2 separate regions of the Homo sapiens genome follow, and region 1 is linked to region 2. Evidence: fine-mapped expression QTL. A gene starts in region 2. The other region holds a variant in brackets. All regions are shown on one strand. Distances are from middle to middle.

Region 1 (9,753 bases), 25 kb before region 2:
GTCCCAGCTACATGGGAGGCTGAGGCAGGAAAACGGCGTGAACTCGGGAGGTGGAGCTTGCAGTAAGCCGAGATCGCACCACTGCACTCCAGCCTGGGCGACAGAGCAAGACTCCGTCTCAAAAATAAATAAATAAATAAATAAATAAAATGGCACAATTATATCCTAACATATCAATAATTACATTAAATGTAAATGTCTTAACTCACCAATTAAAAGAGATTGGTAAGATGGATTTTAAAACATGTATCAACTATATACTATCTACAAGAAATTCACTTCAAGATGTTTCACACAGATATTAATCAAAGGAAAGCAGGAGTGGCTATATTAGTATCAAATGAGGCAGACTTCAGGGCAAAGAAACTTACCAGGGATAAGACTGACATGCAATAATAAAAGGGTCAATGCAACAAGAATGCATAGTAATCCTAAACATTTATCTAACAAACAACAGAACTGCAAAATATATACAACAAAAAGGGATAGAACTGAAAGGAGAAATAGACAAATCCACTATTGTGGTTGGATACGTCAACACTCCTCTCTCAACAATTGATAGATCAACTAGACAGAAAATCAGCAAGAAAATAGAAGCACGCAATGATATCGTCAACCAACAGGATCTAATTGACATTTATTGAACACTTTATTCCAACAGCAGATTATCCTTTCTTTCCAAGTGCCCACGAAACATATACCAATATAGACCATATTCTGGGGCACAAAACAAACCTTAACAATTTTCTAAAAATTGAAATCACATGGTGTGGGTTCTCCAAACACAATGAATTCAAACTACAAATCAACAGAAAGATAACAGAAAAACCTCCAAATACTTGAAAACTAAACCACTCATTTATAAGTAATCCATGGGAAAAAGGAGTTTCAAGAGATATTTTAAAAAATACATTGAGCTGAATGAAAATGGAGTACAAATGTCAAAACACAGAAAAAGCATTGTGGATGGGGAAAATTTATAGCATTAAACACATATATTAGAAAAGAGGAAAAGTCTCAAATCGATAAGCTCAAAAACCTCAAGAAACTAGGAAAAGAAGAGCAAAATAAACCCAAGGCAAGCAGAAGGATGAAAATAATAAAAGATAAGGGCAAAAATTAATAAAATCCTTATAAAAATAATAGAGAAAATCAATGAAAGAAAGAGCTGATTGTCTTTTTTTGTGGGGGGAGGGGGACGGAGTCTTGCTCTGTTGCCCAGGCTGGAGTGCAGTGGCGCAATCTCGGCTCACCGCAAACTCCACCTCCCAGGTTCAAGCGAGTCTCCTGCCTCAGCCTCCCGAGTAGCTGGGACTACAGGCACGCACCACCACGCCCAGCTAACTTTTGTATTTCAGTAGAGACGAGGTTTCACCATATCGGCCAGGCTGGTCTTGAACTCCTGACCTCGTAATCCTCCTGCCTCAGCCTCCCAAAGTGCTGGGATTACAGGTATGAGCCACTACACCCAGCCAAAAGCTGATTCTTTGAAAGGTCAATAAAACTGACAAAACTCTATCAATACTGACCAAAGAAAAAAAAAGACATAGATTACCAATATCAGGAATGATAACTCTACTCTATACATATAAATTTGACAACTTGGATGAAATGAACCAATTTCTTGAAAAATACAAACTACCACAACTTACCCAATATGAAAAAGATAATTTGAATAGGGAATTTAATTAATAATTTTAGAACTCCTAAAAAAAGAAATCTCCGGACTCCTATCGTTTAAATAGATAATTCTATCAAATCTTTAAAGAAAAATTTATCACCACTGTTCCAGAAAATAGGTGAGGAAAGAAGACTTTCCAATTTGTTTTATGCAGCTGGAATTACAGTGATACCAAAACCAGACAAAGATAGTAGAAAAAAAGAAAATCTCAGAAAAATATCCCTCATGAATATAGACCAAGAAAATATTTAATAAAATATTAGCAAATAGAATTCAGCACTACATACAAATAATTGTACACCATTACCAAGTGGAGTTTACTCCTGGAATGGATGACTGGTTAAACATTCAAAAAGCAAACAATGTAATCCACTGAATTCACAGGCTAACAAAGAAAAATCATATCAATTGATGCACAAAAAGCATTTGACAAAAATCGGCTGGGCATGGTGGCTCACGCCTGTAATTCCAGCACTTTGGGAGGCTGAGGAGGGTGGATCACGAGGTCAGGAGATCGAGACCATCCTGGCTAACATGGTGAAACCCCATCTCTACTAAAAATACAAAAAATTAGCCAGGCGTGGTGGCGGGTGCCTGCAGTCCCAGCTACTTGGGAGGCTGAGGCAGAAGAATGGTGTGAACCCGGGAGGCGGAGCTTGCAGTGAGCCGAGATCATGCCACTGCACTCCAGCCTGGGCGACAGAGCAAGACTCCGTCTCAAAAAAAAAAAAAGCATTTGACAAAATTCAACACTCATTCATAACAGAAATTCTAAAACTAGGAATAAAGGGGGAACTTTGTCAACTTTGTAAAGGGCACCTATAAAATACCTATAGCTAATGTGATACTCTTTTTTTTTTTGAGATGGAGTCTCACTCTGTCACCCAGGCTGGATGGAGTGCAGTGGCGTGATCTCAGCTCACTGCAAGCTCCACCTCCTGGGTTCACGCCATTCTCTTGCCTCAGCCTCCCAAGTAGCTGGGACTACAGGTGCCCACCACCACACCTGGCTAATGTTTTGTATTTTTAGTAGAGACATGGTTTCACCATGTTAGCCAGGATGGTCTCGATCTCCTGACCTTGTGATCCATCCGCCTCGGCCTCCCAAAGTGCTGGGATTACAGGCTTGAGCCACCGCGCCTGGCCAGCTAATGTGATACTTGATGGTGAAAACTAAGTTCTTTCCTTCCAGGATCCAAAGAGAAGATGCCTGCTCTCACCACTCTTACTCAGCACAGAGCTGGGAGTTCTAGCCAGTACAATAAGGCAAGAAAAGGAAATAAAAGGCACACAGACAGGAAAGGAAGAAACAAAACTGCCCTCATTTACAGATAACATGATTGTCTCTGCATAGAAAATTCCAAGGAATCTACCCTCAAAAAAGCCCTCCTAGAACTAATAAGTGAGTTTAACAAGGTCGCAAGACATAAGATAAACGATCAAAAGTCAATTCTATTTCTACATGCTAGCAACAAACACATGGGCACTGACATTAAAAATACAATACCATTTAAAATCCCTCAAAAAATGAAACACTTAGGTATAAATCTAACATATATAGAACATAGGTATGTGCTGTGCACTGGTAGCCTCAGCTACTCAGGAGGCTGAGAGGGGAGGATCACTTGAGCACAGGTGTTCAAGGCTGCAGTGAGCTATGATCTATGCCACTGGACTCCAGCCTGGGTGACAAAGTGAGACCTCATCTCTAAAAAGATTTAAAAAATTAAATTAAGTTTAAAAATGCAGAATTTGAACACTGAAAACTATACAATACTGATAGGAAAAAAAAGAATTGAAGTTTTTATTGATCCCTGCAACAACTGGCATAAATCTTCAAAGAATTATGCTAAGTGGAAAAAGCCAGGCCTGAAGGATGATATACTATATGATTCCATGTCCACTTACATAACACTGTTGAAATCAACATTCTAGAAATGGAAGACACATCAGCCATTGCTGGAGGTTAGGAAAGGGCTTCGGTGGGAGGGAGGTGCGTGTGACCGTAAAAGGGCAGCAGGAGGGAGTCTCTGGTGACAGAAATATCCCGTATCTTGACCGTACCAGTGTCAGCATCCAGGCTATGATGTCCTACCGTTGCAAGATGGTACCATTGGGTACAAGGGACCTCTCTGTGTTATTTCTTACAGCTGCCTGTGAATCTACAATGATCTCCACAGAAAAAATTCAATTAAAAAATATTTTAAAGCACATAACAGGCAGTCATGTGTAATTTGGGTCACGTAGAACAAGTCTGGATCATGAAGTCTGTGAGGCTGGTGTACACTTAACTGAGAGTGTGTCTAGCTTTAAACCGGTATCTGCATTTAAAAAAAAAAAAAAAGGCAGAGTCGGGGGCCACTCTCAGAGAGCACTATTAGGTGCTCACCGGCAGAACCCAGACATTGCATTTTCAAAGCTTTTAAGCTTTTCAGCTGCACTCTGAGGAACCGGCTATTGATCTGTGTCCTTGGTGCACAGCCCTTGCACTTCTTTCTGCCCCCACGCCCTGCGGCCCCTCTCGGCTCTGAACAGGGGCCCTGCTCTCTGGGACTCCACATCCCTGCAAAATTTGTCTCCCCTTCCCTGGGTTCCTCCCCCGGGGCTGAGCTGAGGACAAGGGCCTGGCCTCCTCCTTGGAGAACCCCACAGCACCCTGCATTTCGGCGTGGTCCATGGGCTCTTCTCAGGGGCTCCTCACGTTGTGCAAAGGGGTAAGGGAGCAGGGCCAGCTGCAGATCTCCCTCCCGCTGTGACAAGGACATCCTAGTCGAAGAGCCCGTTTATCTTCGCTCTTAAGGCCAGGCTCTCTCAGGTCATTGTTGCCAAAGAAATGAATTGCAGCACAGCTCCGCAGGTCCCTGCACAACTGGGGCAAGGGCTGGCACTGGGCCAGC[G/A]GGAACCTGTTGGGGAGGCTGCAAGGTGCTTCTCTGCATCCAAGGCTGCCACACCCTGTGCACACTGTGGAGCTGGGTGGATGGGGTGTGCTCAGGAGGGGCTCTCGGCCCTCGGCTGGGAGTCAGAGGCGTGGTGGGTGGGGCGGGGAGGGGTGTCACAGCTGCAGGGCAGCCTTGATGTCTGCACTTGGCTTTTTAATTTGTAGTCACAGCCAACAAGTGTGGAAACCGCCTCAGGACCGGCTTGAGTGGAGCGGCTGCGGGAGTTACTTCATGACTGTGGTCTCACGCTGTGTTTCGCCACCCATCCCTGCCTGGCCTGGCTTCCTTCCTTCCTCCTGGGTACGTTGGCCCTTGGCTCTCTCCTCATTAACTGGCCCCTCGGACCCCGGCTGGCCAGCTGTCTGCAGCCTCCTGGGTGACACCTTCACCCCTGCCTCCTCGGGGGTCTGCTGCCGCCACATCAATCTCCCTAACACCCTGGGCATGCCACCCCTCTGGAGACCTCCCTAGTCTCTCTCGCAGGGCCCCCAACCTGCTCAGCCCAGGCCCACTGCCCTCTCCCTGCCCGGACACGTGCTCCCGTGGCCCGGCCGTGCCTGCCCACACACCTGCCCTCTCTGAGGTTCACATGTGGCATCCAGGGGCCCTTCCCCAACAGCTCTGCCTGGTGCAGCCTCCCCCTCAGCCTCCTCTTCCCCCCGAGCAGGGTTTGCAGAGGCCCAGAGGCTGCCGGGATGAGTAGATGTTGGGATCCTGCTTACTGGGCGTGTCTTATCCCCCAGAGCAATGGCCTTGGAGGTCAGGGACCCAGCATGGCCATGCTGGCTTGGGGTTTAGGAGCTGTCTCACCAGAGCCCCGCCTCAGCCCACAGCCCCGGGCCTGTTTCCTTGAAGGCTCCCCAGAGCCCCATGCCTGGTTTTCTGGCCAGAGCCCTTGGCAGTGACCCCTGCTCTCCGCCTGCAGCTCTGGGCGTCCTCTCAGCCCCAAGCCCTGATAGGTGCCCCCTGTCTCTGTGCCTGCAGCCTTCAGGAGTGGCCCACACATTGGCTTTTATCTCTGGGCTCTCTGTCACCTCCTCTCCCTCCTGCCACCCTCTGCTCACAGGCTGCGGGTGTGGGGCATCCAGGAGCTGGCCGGTGGAAAGAGGAGCAGGTGCCCTTACGCAGTGGGGAGCAGACACACTTGTGCTGCTTTTCCCTTGGGGCTTGGGGTGGCCACTGGGGCAGGACATGAGGACAGACCAGCCCTCGTCCCCCCAGTGCAGGGGGCAGATCTCACTGCCAGGTGAAACCCTGCTGACCATCCATGTGGACCCCTCAGCTTGGCTGGATGCAGGAGGTGGTTGCACAGTTGCAGGTGGGGCATGGAGGGAGTGGAGCAGCCCCTTACCCCAACACAGGCCCCATTCCTGCTTAACCGGATGTTCCGAGGAGAAGCACAGCCCAACAGGTGTGCACAGGAAGCTCCCATCAGTGCTGTCCTGGGAAAGGCCCATCCTGAATGAAGTGTGTTGCTCAGATCCGAAGAGCGCTGCATCTTCACAGGTCAGGGTGGAAACCTCCTGGTGCACGGCCCGGGAGGGGCACCCGTGGCAGGGCCAGCCCCTGTGAGGCTGCACAGATGAGCTCGAGCAGAGAGTCTGGGGCCGGCCACATCCCACGTCCGACCCTGAGCTGGGGCCCTGGGGGAGCCCCTGTGGCTTTCGTACCAGCCACGCCTGTATGTAGAGAGCTGAGTGTCTGCTGTGGAAGACCACGAGTCACATGGCAGACATGGGCACTCGGCCCAGGCGATGCTGACCCATCCATCAGCTCCTACAGGACCACAAGCTCCCGTTGTGGTGGCCAGAGACTCCCAATGGCCACAGACCCACTCAGGGCTCTCTCTGGGGTCTTCCGGAGAAAAGGAAAGCTCAATGAGCTCCTTAAACCTTTCACTTCAAGTTGTTGCTTTTAAACATTTTGCTTCGTGGCCTTTCTTGCTCCTTCTGTAAAAATCTACATTGTGCTACCATTTTTTTTTTTTTTTGGCAAGGTGTCACTCTGCCACCCAGGCTAGAGTGCAGTGCTGTGATCATGACTCACTGTAGCCTCAAACTCCTGGGCTCAAAGGATCCTCCAGCCTCAGCCTCCCAAGTAGCTGGGACTACAGGTATATCCCACAGCATCCAGCTAATTTTTTGAAAATTTTTTTGGTAGAGATGAGGTCTTACCATGTTGGCCAGGCTGGTCTCAAACTCCTGGGCTCAAGCGATCCTCCTGTCTCGGCCTCCCAAAGTGCTGGGATTACAGGCGTGAGCCACTATGCCCACTCAACATAGTGATTTTCTAACTCCTTCATTTCTTCTCCATTTAGTAGTTGGCTTTCCACCGTAAGGAAAACTGCCCAGTCTCCCCTCTGGCTACCAGTGAAGGCTTGTGGGGTTTTCTTTGATTCGGTGAGTTATATTCAGTGGCTGTGGGGCTTGTTTGGATGCTGGCTGACCGGCCCCGTGTCCCTGTCATGGTGGAGCACGCCCTTGCTTCCTGGCACCACCGCTGCACCCGGCTCAGCCTGCACTTTAACTGCTGCAGCGCTGGAGGCAGCCACTTCCCTGAGGAGCCCTGCTTCCTTTTGTTTGTTTGTTTTTGTTTCTTTGCTTTGAGACGGAGCCTCATTCTGTTGCCCAGGCTGGAGCGCCCTGGCAGGATCATGGCTCTTTGGCTCAGCCTCCCAAGTAGCTGGGACTACAGGTCCCCAACATCATACTTGATTACATTTTTAAAATTGTTTATAGAGATGGGGTCTCATTATGTTGCCCAGGCTGGTCTCAAACTCCTGGGCTTAAGTGATCCTCCTGCCCTGGCCTCCCAAAGTGCTGGGATTATAGGCGTGAGCCACCACGCCCGACCAAGGCCAGCTTTCTTAGAACAGAGTATTTCTTCCACACTGGGGTCCAGGCATGAGTTGTGCTCACTTTACCATGGTATCATTTAGATCCTAGAAAAAAATTATTTGTGAGATTATTATAATATGTATAAATAAATATACAATTAATAATACTATTAAACATCATTGAATTGTGATTATATTATTAATATAGTTGTATTATTAATATGTGATTGTACTATTAATTTTAATTATCGTGTAATTAGTTATAATGCATCCATAATAACTCATACCATGAATTCACAGTCACTCCTAGTCCTGCCCGGCCCTGCAGGCTCCTCCTTGTGTCCGTCATTCCGTATCTGTACCTCCTTCTACAAGAGAGCCCTAACTTCTAACAGCATCACTATGTCTATCATCTATTTAGCCCTCCAAACACACAAGACACTTCCAGAATCTTCTTATTCTCCAGAGGAAAATGTTTCATCAAAACACCAGAGGCAGCCAGCATTTTGACAAGAAAACACAACAAACTTCATTTCTTTGGAAATTTGATCTAGGAAAATGTGTCTCTCTCATTTTGCTAATGGATGTCTGTTTATCAGTCAGAGACCATGAAACGACTCCTTATTTTGAATATCAGATTTTCTTCTTATTCTCAAACCTCAAAACAGCTTGGTAATAATTTATTTGGAAATTATCCGAAAGGTAAAAATAAAAACAGAAGCAAGTAATATGCCTTGTTACTGCTCCTTAATTAGGTAAGAGCCTCATTTCTTGGGCTGCTGGGATGTAAATTCTGCATAAAATGGCTGGCTTTCTTTTTAAGGCTTTGCAGCAGTGTTAACATTCGGCTGCCAACTAAGTCGATTTTAATCGCCTTTACAGGAACCTTCACTTTTTCTGTTTGTTCCATTCCACTCTTTCCTCAGTGGATAATCCCGCATGTTAAGATTCCTGTGCAGCCGAGGGAGGCGGCTTTTGGCCGGGAGCTTGTGCTCTGGGTGTGAGCGTGGCTGTTGGGAACGCCTTCTGCTCAGAATTCCGTGGTCTCAGCAGATCGTTCAGTCTAGCCACTGGGACGGGGCCGACCGCACACTGCTGGACCTCTGAGCGGAAGATGTGTGAGGTTAGGAGGGAAGGAATAAACAAAGTCGCCTTCTTCCCTGCTGACCTGCCTTGGTATGTCACCATTACTCAGCTCCTTACAGAACAGGAGCTTCAAGCTTTCACCGGACAGGCTGGCTTCTTCCCGGGAGCCCCCGCCCAAGGTGGGGCCTGGTGGGGTGGGGCCACCATCGCTGCTGGAAGCTTTAGCTCTTTTCCCTCAGCTTGGCCTCCTTTGGCAACTAATTTTTTAACTTTTTCTAATAGGTAACAGAGTCCCAAGATTCCAAGTTCCAGGAGCATGAAAGGACTCACTTGTGGAGATTCCTGCCTGGGGCTCCCACCCACCTAAGGAATGCCATCCTTGTCACCGGCTCACGGGGCAGCTCTTTGGTATCCTTCCAGGGTGGTGTGTACAAGTACAGGCACATGGATGCATGGATGCATGAGCATTTTTTTCTTTTGCCGACATATTAATACACCCGGCAGCACTCTAGGCCCATTGGCCTGCAACTTTTCATTTGATTGATTTTTAATTATTTACTTTTTTAAAAAATTGTAGTTAAATATACATGACATATATTTACCATTTGAGTCTTTTTTTTTTTTTTGAGATGGAGTCTTGCTCTATCTCCCAGGCTGGAGTGCAGTGGTGTGATCTCGGCTCACTGCAACCTCCACAGCCTGATCCTGGGTTCAAGGGATTCTCCTGCCTCAGCCTCCCGAGTAGTTGGGATTACAGGCGCCTGCCACCATGCCTGGATAATTTTTTTTTCTTTTGAGACGGAGTCTTGCTCTGTCACCCAGGCTGGAGTGCAGTGGTGCAATCTCAGCTCACTGCAAGCTCCGCCTCCCAGGTTCACGCCATTCTCCTGCCTCAGCCTCCCGAATAGCTGCGACTACAGGTGCCCGCCACCACACCGGCTAATTTTTTGTATTTTTAGTAGAGACAGGGTTTCACCGTGTTAGCCAGGATGGTCTCGATCTCCTGACCTCGTGATCAGCCTGCCTCGGCCTCCCAAAGTGCTGGGATTAAAGGCATGAGCCACTGTGCCCGGCCTAATTTTTGTATTTCTGTAGAGACAGGATTTCACCATGTTGGCTAGGCTGGTCTCAAACTCTTGACCTCAGGTGATCTGCCCTCCTCGCCCTCCCAAAGTGTTGGGATTACAGGTGTGAGCCACAGCACCCAGACC
Region 2 (9,753 bases):
CATCCTCACCCAGGTATGGCCATCACCTGAGGCCTCGAAACCAGGTGATGGGCCGCCAAGTTGAGGGCTCTGGCAACCACCTTCCCCGTGGGAGCCTGGGTGTGCAACAGGCAGTGCATTTGCACGCAGCACCAGGGTCCAGGGAACAGAGGTCCTGAAGACGGGACAGTAGGGTCCTGTTTATTCCAGAGTGATTTTCAGATCTCTCTTGCCTGACTGGGAGGTAGATGCAGTGGGGAGCTGGAGCCAGTCCCTGGAGCCCAGCGCTGAGCTCTTTGTGATGGAGGGGTGGGGTGAGCCGCAGGATCTAGGTCACCGTGCTCTGGCCCTGCTCTCTGCCTTTCGCAAGCGCTTGCTCCCGTGGGATGTTTGTCATGCTTCCATGCATGACACAGGAGAATATCAACATTGGTGCCATTTCACATCTCTTCATTCATCTGCTATTCTTCCACCTTCAGCTTCTCATAAAATCACAGAACTGCAGTGAGGACCTCTGCCTGCCGGGACAGCCTGGGGATGGTCCCGTGCAGCCCCCTCAGGCAGCATCCCTGTGGAGGGTTCCCCTCCGCCCCCTACCGTGGGGAGCTCTTCCCAGCTGAGTCACACTGCACGCCTGGTCCCTACCCTGGGCTGCTCTCTGTGTTATCTTGCAGGCGCCGTCCCAGATCCTTCAGGGGACTCTGAAGGCCCATCAGATGTGGCTGCAGACCCACCTCCCTCAGACCCTCAGCTCTGGATCCAGGCTGGCTCCCTGCCGTGGAGCACAGGCGCCCTTTGTAGCACTCACTCCAGCTGCCCAGGGAATCGGGGACTTGGTGTGGACTGAGACTCAGCCCCCTTGAAGCCCTATTCTGTCCACCGCTGCAAGACATAGGCGGCTTTAAGCAGGACCAGGCCGCACCCTCCAGGCAGAGACAGCTGCTGTGGGTTCTGTGCTCTTCTAATGGGCATGTCTTCCCATCGGTGATGAGGACTGATTTGTGCAGTGACCCCCTTACATTTTTCTGAAAAGGAGATCAAGGAAAACATTCTTCAGTAGAATCCTCACTGTGCACACACTTCCCCTTGTGCTCGGTGACAGCCACTGCCTTTGGGAGCAGGGAGGACGCCCCAGAACCTCCTGGTCTCCGCACACCCCCCTGAGCTGGGCTGAGCACACAAGCACCCCTCTGCAGACAGTAGAGGTTTTGGGATTCAGAATATGCAGTCTGAAGCTCCCCAGAGCCTGGCTCTTTAGTCAGGCCCTCCTTGCCCGCCCTGTGAATCCACGCCTAGGAGCCTGTGCCCCCACCCAGCAGGAGCTGATGCTGCTGAGCTTCCCAGGTGCCAGACAGGGGCTGAGTGTGGGGGCCAGGGAGCCAGTCGGGAGTCTGCTGCCTGGCAGGCCATGTCCTGCAGAAGAGAGGCCAGCATAGGGCACGGTGGGCCTGGAGGGGCTGGAGACAGTGCTGCTGGGTCGGCAGAGCTAGAGAAGGGCAGCCCAGGCAGGGGGCACACTAGTGCCAAGGTGCAGGGGCATGAAGCTGCAGGTCACACGGCCTCCCTCGGAGCCCCCAGGTACTGGGGGTGGGTTCAAATCTCACAGGGTTGGCGGGCGAGGGCTTCAGGAACAGCAGGGACAGGAGCATGAGAGCAGTAGAAAAATGCAGGGGTCAGGAGGATCATCTGGGACCCACCAGGTTGCTGGTGAATTCAGGGGATAGAAGGGATGTGAGCTCAGGCCTCGAGCAGCTGCCTGATTGGGACAGCCCCTGGCTGGGCCGCGACCAGGTCACAGCACTTTGCAGGAGTCAGGCCTGGGCTCCACGGTCGTGGGTTCTAGTCTCGGCTGTTTAGTCTCAAGCAGATCTCCACCGCGCCCTGACCTCCACTTCCTGCGTCTACTCAGGGTGAAAAAACACCCCATTCCCAGCACAGGTCAGGGTTGCCCGAGTTGATCATGCAGGTAGGCCTGTGGGGCTCTCAGGTGCCTGACACCCTGCATGCATCTTGGCCTCTTCCCTCATCCTCAGCCTCAGATGGACTGAGCCATCTGGAACCTGTCAGTGGTGGCCTCAGCCCTAACTGCAGATGACAGGCTTGGGAGTGTGGCGACATGTGTCACCTGGAGCAAACTGCTCCCCCTCTGAAGCCTGTCACCCACAAGACCTGCTCCCAAGGGCCAATGGCAGGTGCCTTATTCTTTCGTCGCCATCACCGTTGCCACCTCCCCACCAGCTCCATCCTTCTCCGGGTCCCAGCCCTGGGGCGCTCACTCCCCTGTGTGCTGAGGGAGGCCCAGCATGGTTCAAATGCAGCCTCTGGAGAATTTCTTCACTAAGAGGCTTTTTCTGAAAAGAGTCAAGCTATTTGTAGCCCAAGTTGGTTGAACAGATTTTTCTTGGTGTAGCTTATTTTTTTATTCATTAACTTCTTTTCCTTATGAATTAAAAAATAGCATTTTTTTTTCCACAAAGGAGTGCTTTATTTACTTCTTTTTGTACCACAGCCAGCGCTTCCTCTGCCTGCTGGGGAAAGTGGATGCACACACCCACTTTGGCAGGCAGTTTTCTTTCAAGCCATGGCATCTTGGAGAGGTAAGTGTGTGTGTTCAGACCACTGCCCTGTGGCTCCAGCCCCCCTGATATCAGCCACAGCCCCAAGGCTTGGGTGTTGTTTGTTTGTTTTTTCATTTTTTTTGAGACAAGGTCTCACTCTGTTGCCCAGGCTGGAGTGCAGTGGCACCATCACGGCTCACTGCATGCAGCCTCAAACTCCCAGGCTCAAGTGAGCCTCTGGCCTCAGCCTCCTGAGTAGCTGAGACTACAGACTCATGCCACCACAGCCAGTTTTTTTTTTTTAATTTTTAATTTTTATAGAAACGGGGTCTCACATTCTTGCCCAGACTGGTCTCAAACTCTTGGCCTCAAGTCATCCTCCCACCTTGGCCACCGAAAGTGCTACAATGATAGGCGTGAGCCACCAGGCCTGCCTGGTTGGCTTTTTGGTGAACAGGAGCATAATAAGGGTTTCACTGGGCTGTCAGCCTCCATTGTGGTGGCCAGTATCTCAAAGCCTCACCTGGCAGAACTGGAGACGCGTCTGCTGACCGATGCCCTCATGACCCATTTTCCTGACTTCAGAAATGTCCCATGCAGACACTATGCCATCCAGCAGGCCTCCCAGCTAGACAGGGTGCAGCCTCGATGTGTCTGTGGAGGGACTCGGGCTGTCCCTGCACTCACAGTCATGGTGACCAAAGTCCCAGAGTAAGGGAGCAGATGCCGCTTCCCCCTTCCAGCCCAGGCATTTTACATGAGGCGCTGACCCAGGACCACCCTTGACTTCACTCTTCCAAGGAGTGGCTCCCAGTCCTATATATTCCATCAGCCTCCAGGCTGGCTGTCCCTTAAACACTGGTCTCCAATCTAACTGCATTTCTGTAAGTAATCTTTTGGGACAGACTTTTTTAAAAAAGATCATGTTTATGCCGTATTCCTCATCTTTCTTGTCTTCTATCTCCAGATTTGTTTTAAAACCTATTACTCCTGTATACATGTGCCTCCCACCCTTTGAGCTATGCCCTTGACCTGCTATGCACTTGTCTCAAGGCCAAGTTCAAACCCCCTAACCCAAGGCTGTCCAGAGCTGCCCTGCCACCTGAGCCATGGGGAGGGGCGCTGAGCTGGTGCCTTTCACAGGCTGCCTGCCTCCCCCTGGGCAGGGCTCCTGTCTCTCCTCCTTTGTCTCCACAAGCACAGGCTTGCATGGGTCAGCACGTGGTGAACAGCCAACCATCATTTTCCAATTCTTTCCAAAAAGTCCTGTCTATGCTCAGAAGTCCTGCCTGGCCCTTTGAGTGCCCCTACCCCCACACACACATTCTTTTTTTTTTTTTTTTTTTTTTTTTTTTGAGACGGAGTCTGGCTCTTTGGCTCAGGCTGGAGTGGAGTGCAGTGGTGCGATCTCGGCTCACTGCAACCTCCGCCTTCTGAGTTCAAGTGATTCTCCTGCCTCAGTCTCCTGAATAGCTGGGACTACAGGCATGTGCCACCATGCCTAGCTAATTTTTTGTATTTTTAATAGACGGGGTTTCACCGTGTTAGCCAGGATGGTCTTGATCTCCTGACCTCAACACACATTTCTTTATCGAAATTCCAAATTCTCCAAAGCTCAGAAACATAAAGGTTTTTCAAAACTCAGTGGCAAAGCTGGACCTGAACGATGCGCCATCACTTACTGTCTTTATTTCTTCCAGTTCACCTGAATACATATGTTTTGCCCCGAAAATATAAATGGGTCTGATTATGAGGAGCAGCCCCAGGTTCCAAAGAGGTGCCACATAATGTATGATGTATACAAAAAAGCCTGAGTTCCAAACACATCTTGGATGAGAGGTTGGGACTGTGGGGGATCCCTACACTGGTTAGAGTTCTAGACCCAGAGCAGGGTTATGGTCAACGGCGCTCTGGCCACAGAATGCAGCAGAGCAAGGACTGTGGAACAAAGACGCGGCTTACATGAATTTTTCACTTACCGTGCTGGGTGCTGGTGATTCAGAGATGGAAAGGCCCTAGCGACACCCCCCTCCACCCAGGGAGCCCACGGGCCAGCAGAGGGACCAAGGGGCACAGGACGGGTGGGGAGCAGAGGCGGATTCCCTGGCTGTGGAGGTACTGTCTATACGGGGTGCAGGAGACATCTCCATACAAGGGGGCCCTCACCTGGGGAGGTGGTGACCGCAAGCCTGACAGCCCCAAAGCCTTCAGAGATGCCGCCTGGGGACACTTTGGGAAAGTCCAGGCGGAGGACACCTGGGAATGTGATAGTGACACAAATGACCGGAGAGACTTGCTCTCAGTCACTGAGTCTGGCTGACTCACTGAAGATTAGGGCCTGAACTTCCCCCTCTGTAAATGGGGTGCAGGCCCTGGCCCTGCCTTCACAGTGCCCCTCGGTCCCCTACAAGCCTTCTCCGCAGGGTGGGATCGGGTCTGCCTGGAGCATCCCCACAGCCTATGGGTCAGCAGAGAAGCAGGCGCAGAGCTGGGGTGAGACGGTCAGGGCCGGTCCTGCCAGACACCTCAGATCACTCCTCTTCACAAATAATCCCATTTTACAGCCCAGGAAGAGAGAGGCCGGACCACTGCCCAAAAGCCTGTGGCCTACAGCCTGCCAGGTGCGTCTGCTCGCAGAGCAGGTCTGCGCAGCACCGAGCGGTCAGCAGGGGCAATGCTGGGCACTGGCCAGCCGCGCCAGGACCATCCCTGCTGACCTCGGCGGGGTGGGGCGGAGCGTGCAGGGTCTGGCCCGGAAAGCCAGGGCAGGCTTTAGAGAAGGGCCACCGGACGGATGGTCCGAGGACCGGCATGGACCCGGGTCCCAGCGAGGGCGGGGGGAGCGTAAGGCTGGGCCTGGGCTGCGGCACCGGGGAGGTGGCGGGGAGGAGGCCGGCAGGAACAGCCGTGCAGGGCGGGGGCGGCGCGGGTCTGGTCGGGTGACCCCGGGCGCGGCCAGGGCTGTAGGAGGCGAGGGCGTCGCCCCGAGGCCGTGGTCTCGGGTCCATGGTGGGGGACCTGGGTCCCCGCCCCCCCGGGCCGCCCTGGGTCGCGCGTGGGCGCGGCGGGCGCCGATTGGCTGCCGGGCGCGCGGGCGGAGCGGGCGGCGGCGGCGGCGGCGCGGAGGGGCCGCTCACCCCGCAGCCCGGCCTCGGCCTCCGCCGCTTGTCGTCGCGCCCCGCCCGCGAGCCCGCCCCGCACGTCCCCCGCCGGCGGCCACCATGAGCACAGGCCTGCGGTACAAGAGCAAGCTGGCGACCCCAGGTGAGCCCAGCGCCTGCCCGCGTGCCCGCGCGCGCCTTTGTCCCCGCCGCCCGCGCGCCTCTCACCGTGTCTCTCCGTCTCTCCCCCGCCCGCCGGCCCGGACCCGCTCGGAACCGGACCCGGACTCGACCCCGACCCCGACCCCGCAGAGGACAAGCAGGTACGTGCGCAGCGCCGCTCCCCCGCCGGGAGACCCGGCCGGCTGTCACCCATTGTGACACTAGCGCCTTGGGCGCCCAGGCGCGACCCCGCCCCCGCCGGCCCTCACCCAGCCCTGTCGCGATCACCGATTGTCAGCCGGGCAGTGCCGCCGCGCCTGGGGCTTCAGAGGAGAGGAGTGGGGGCCCTGGTCCCCGGACCCGCACAGCAGGGACCCTGCGCCCCTCCCCAGGATGGGGGGATGGGCAGAGTGTCCCCCTCCCACAGGGCCAGTGCCAGCATCTCCTGCTGACCTGGCCTGTAGGCCATGAGCTGGGGGTCCTGGGTGAGGCCATGGTCGTGGCAGGCCACGCTGGGGGAGGGGAGTCAGGCTCCATCAGCCAGCACAGTCCCTGAACAGCCCTACAGCAGAGGGCCTGTGGTCACCACCCACCTCCCCTGCACCTTCATGCCCCTTTCCCTCCCCATACACAAATTTGAGTGTTCAGGTCTGCAACAGGGACTCTTCCCCAGATTGGGAACCCCCAGGGTCTGGTCTGAGTCATTCTGGGTGCCCAGATGGGTCCTGGGACCCTGTGGGTACAAATAGGCTTGTGGCTTCTCAAAAGGGTTGGCCCCACCCTCCAGGAAAGCAAGACTGGACAGGAGGCTGGTCTAGGCACCTGGGTGAAACCCAGCCGAGCTCAGGGTTAAACAATGCTGTGAGGCCCCTGGGGTGGGGCGGGGGCTGACAACCAGGTGGGCTGGGGGGGCTGGGGAAAGCCTGCTGGTGTCCTCTCTGGCTTGAGCTCAGCCATCTTTGGAGGAAAAAAGAAGAGCCCAATTCTGGCACCAGGGTGGCACTGGCAGCCCCCATCAGGGATGGAGTTTCTCAGGAGCCATGGATGCTGAGTGGAACTCCAGAGTCCTGGCCCAGGGTGCAGCAGGCAGGGCAGGAGGGCGGGCAGGGGGGCCAGGAGCTGGGGGAGTCACTGGCTGACCAGTGCCATTCTCCTGGAAGGGACACACCCCACCCAGAGGTGGATGAGGCTCTCTGGGAGGGGCCCCTTGGGGAGCCAGGCTGGGAGCTGCCTCCCCATCACAGCAGGTCAGACAAAGCCTGAGATGCAGGGACACATGCGTCAGGCTACTGTTTGAGGGAAATGGAAGGAACTGAGGCTGGGAAAGCCAGGAGGCCAGGCCCCTGAGGCTTCTCCTGTGCCTGCAGGTGTCCCCAGCTTGACCCAAGGGCACTCTGAGACCCTGGGCTCCAGCCACTGCTGTTGGGTGCAGCCAGGTTCTCTTGCCCATTACTGCAGGGTGGGGACCCCCTCCTGCTGAGGTGCCCATCGTTTGAGGTCAACCGGGAGTCCACCTCACCCCATCCCAGGCCTCCCAGGCCTCCAAGCCCAGAGGAAGAAGGCACTGTGTGGCCAAGGAAGGGAGCCCCGGAGCAGGAGCCAGGCCAGGTGTCTGGGTGACCAGTGGGTCTGGGGGAGCTGGAAGCACATGGCAGCTTCCCTGCTACCACCGTTGCTGAGCCTCAGCCTGTCCAAGCATTCTTTTTGCTCTTTGAAAGGGGGCTGTAGAGGCATTGGGGGAGTTCCGTCACTACGCTCTGTGCCCCCACCTCCTCACAGGCAGCACCGGTGATCTCTTGGCCCTGGCTGCTGCTCCCAGAGCTGACTCGGGTGATTCTAAGAATGGAAGTGCCAGAGAGGCTCAGGCATTGGGAGGAGATGGGCGCAGCTGTGTCATATGGCTCAGGAAGCCCTGGGAGTATCTTTTGTCACTTGGGGACCAGAGAAAGGGGGTGGCAGGTACGGCCCCTTCCTTGAGGCTCCCCCAGGGAATCCACAGGCCCTGACTGGGCCCCAGTGGGTGGCAGGGCAGGTGGGTTGAACGCTGAGAGTGAGATTCTTGCCCTCCTGACCTGGGCCTCCCCAGAGGCTGTGCCTTACCAATGGGGAAACTGAGGCAGGCAGTCTGAGAGCCACACACTCTGTTAGACACCTCCTAGCCTGAGGCCTAGGCCCAGGGCTGTCTGTCTTCCTGGAGATGCCCTGGGCCTGAGATGCCAGCCTGTCTGGGTGGGTGCTGGGCTTCGAGGTGTGGACCCTCAGTTGGAAACTGGGTGGGACTCAGCCTAGAGGCTTCCTGCAGGTCAGGGCCATGGAAGGCTGGGGCCAGTGAGGAGGCTTTCTGGCAGCAAGGACTGAGGGATGCACTGGTAGAGCTGGGGGGCCTGGAGCTGCCCCCTTTCCCTGGGATGAAAGGCTCTCCTGTTCCCAGCTGTGGGCCTGCCCCTCCTCCCCAGGTGCCAGTGGTCCAGGCCCCACAACAGGACCAGGGCCTGGACAGGAAGTGGAGGAGGTCTCTCAGCCAGGAGAGCCTAAGGGAGGGCTGGTGGCGGGTGGGGTGGGGTGGGGTTGGGGCCTCCAGCTTCTAATGTTCTAATGTGCAGGGGCTTGGCCTGACCAGTCCTACCCTGGAACCTTTCCAGGCCCCATGTCCTGCTCCGCTGGGCTTGCCTGTTGGGATTCTACTGGGGTCATGGAGGTGGGTGGCCCACAGAGCGGAGCTCGGGAGACCCCCGCAGTCCCTGGAGTAGCCACATGGGAGGGAGGCCCGGCTGGCAGGAGCTCCCAGTCCCTCCAATCCTGTGGGTCAGAGCTGGTGAGGATGCTCAGAGGGCAAGGGAATGTCCACAGAAGCACGTGGGAGATGGGTCCCATCCCACCCCCACCCCTGTCTCTGAGGGCAGGGCCACCTGAGGGCTGCAGGGCAGCGCATGGGTGGCCGGCGTTTATTCAGCAGGCTGGCGGGGGCTTCCAAGTTTTGCAGGGACCTCCAGTACTCCGGCAGCCTGCACCCTTCCTTTCCCTTCCCTTCCCTTCTGTCCACCCTAAGCCTCCTAGGGGACAGGCAGGCTGGACTTCAGAAAAGGTGGGCTCTGCCCTCCTCCGGTCCCCCGAATGTCTTGGGAAAGAGTCCACCAAACACACATGCACACACCCGCGCACACGCACATACCCAATGCATGCACACACGTACACACACACGCATACACGCATGTATACACGCGCACACACGCAGGCATTACACACACACACATTACACACACACACCCGCACGGACGCGCACACACAAACGCGCGCACGCACGCACGCACGCACGGGGGAGGTCAGCCCCAAGCAGGGCTGGGGAGGGGTGCAGGGCGCGGCGTGTCTGTGGGCACTTGGGGCGTCGAGACGCCGCCGGGAGGTTTTCGGGCAAGTCTGCGAGAAGACGGCGGGCCCTGAACTGGGCGGGTACCCGCGCTGTTGCGCGTGGGTCCCGGGAGCGGCCTCCGGCGCCCTCTGGCGGGCGGAAGCCGCGCAGCACCTCTTGGGGGCGGGACGCGCGGTGGCTACCGACTCCCGGCCCGCCCCGGCCCGCGTGCAGGACCCGGTCGTCCCCTCCTGCTGTCCTGGAGCCCGGACTGAGGCCCCGGGGGCGCGGCAGGGCTCCCGGTCCACGCGAGCCATGGCCCGACCGCGCCTCGGCTCAGCCCTGCCCTCCGCAGCCGCTTTCGGGTGGCTCCGCCCGCGGCCCAATTTCCAGGCGACCGTTTCCCGGCGACGGCGGGCGGGGCCGTCTCTGCCGCCCCCCGCCGCGCGCTCCGCGGGCGCCTGCGACGCCCCGCCTCTGGCTCGGGTGCGGGAGCGGGGCCTGCCCGGACTGCGACGCCGCCACAGCTTGGGGCCAGTTCGCCCAGTCAGGGGGATGGCTCGGTCGGCCTCGGGGGTCGACGATCCCCCGGGTAGGCGACGTG

Alleles and levels. Alleles are on the strand shown, and positions count from the first base shown. SD is a standard deviation of normalised expression in the study named.
For the expression in whole blood of the gene that starts at base 5,673 in region 2, allele A in region 1 goes with a higher level than allele G (small effect, 0.39 SD a copy in GTEx).

The links. PIP is the estimated chance that this variant, and not a neighbour inherited with it, causes the effect.
Region 1: its variant is fine-mapped to the expression of SEPTIN5 in whole blood (TOPMed, PIP above 0.99).

The regions. Positions count from the first base shown.
Region 1 is chr22:19,683,359-19,693,111 of GRCh38, forward strand. No RefSeq gene overlaps it. Among named protein-coding and RNA genes, the nearest start is that of SEPTIN5, 26 kb to the right of the region's middle. RefSeq lists enhancers at 4,780-5,628, 8,611-9,170. The variant G/A (reference allele first, on the strand shown) is at 4,579.
Region 2 is chr22:19,708,831-19,718,583 of GRCh38, forward strand. SEPTIN5 (septin 5) reads left to right here and starts at 5,673. Exons shown (of 12, transcript NM_002688.6): 1 at 5,673-5,801; 2 at 5,951-5,961. The coding sequence starts at 5,759. It overlaps SEPT5-GP1BB (SEPT5-GP1BB readthrough), which reads left to right and starts at 8,390. Exons shown (of 12, transcript NR_037611.1): 1 at 8,390-9,753. LOC124905079 (a long non-coding RNA gene) reads right to left here and starts at 5,965. Exons shown (of 2, transcript XR_007068003.1): 1 at 5,867-5,965; 2 at 160-1,004. RefSeq lists enhancers at 1-322, 8,325-8,966, 8,967-9,607 and silencers at 9,023-9,442, 9,453-9,632, 9,609-9,753.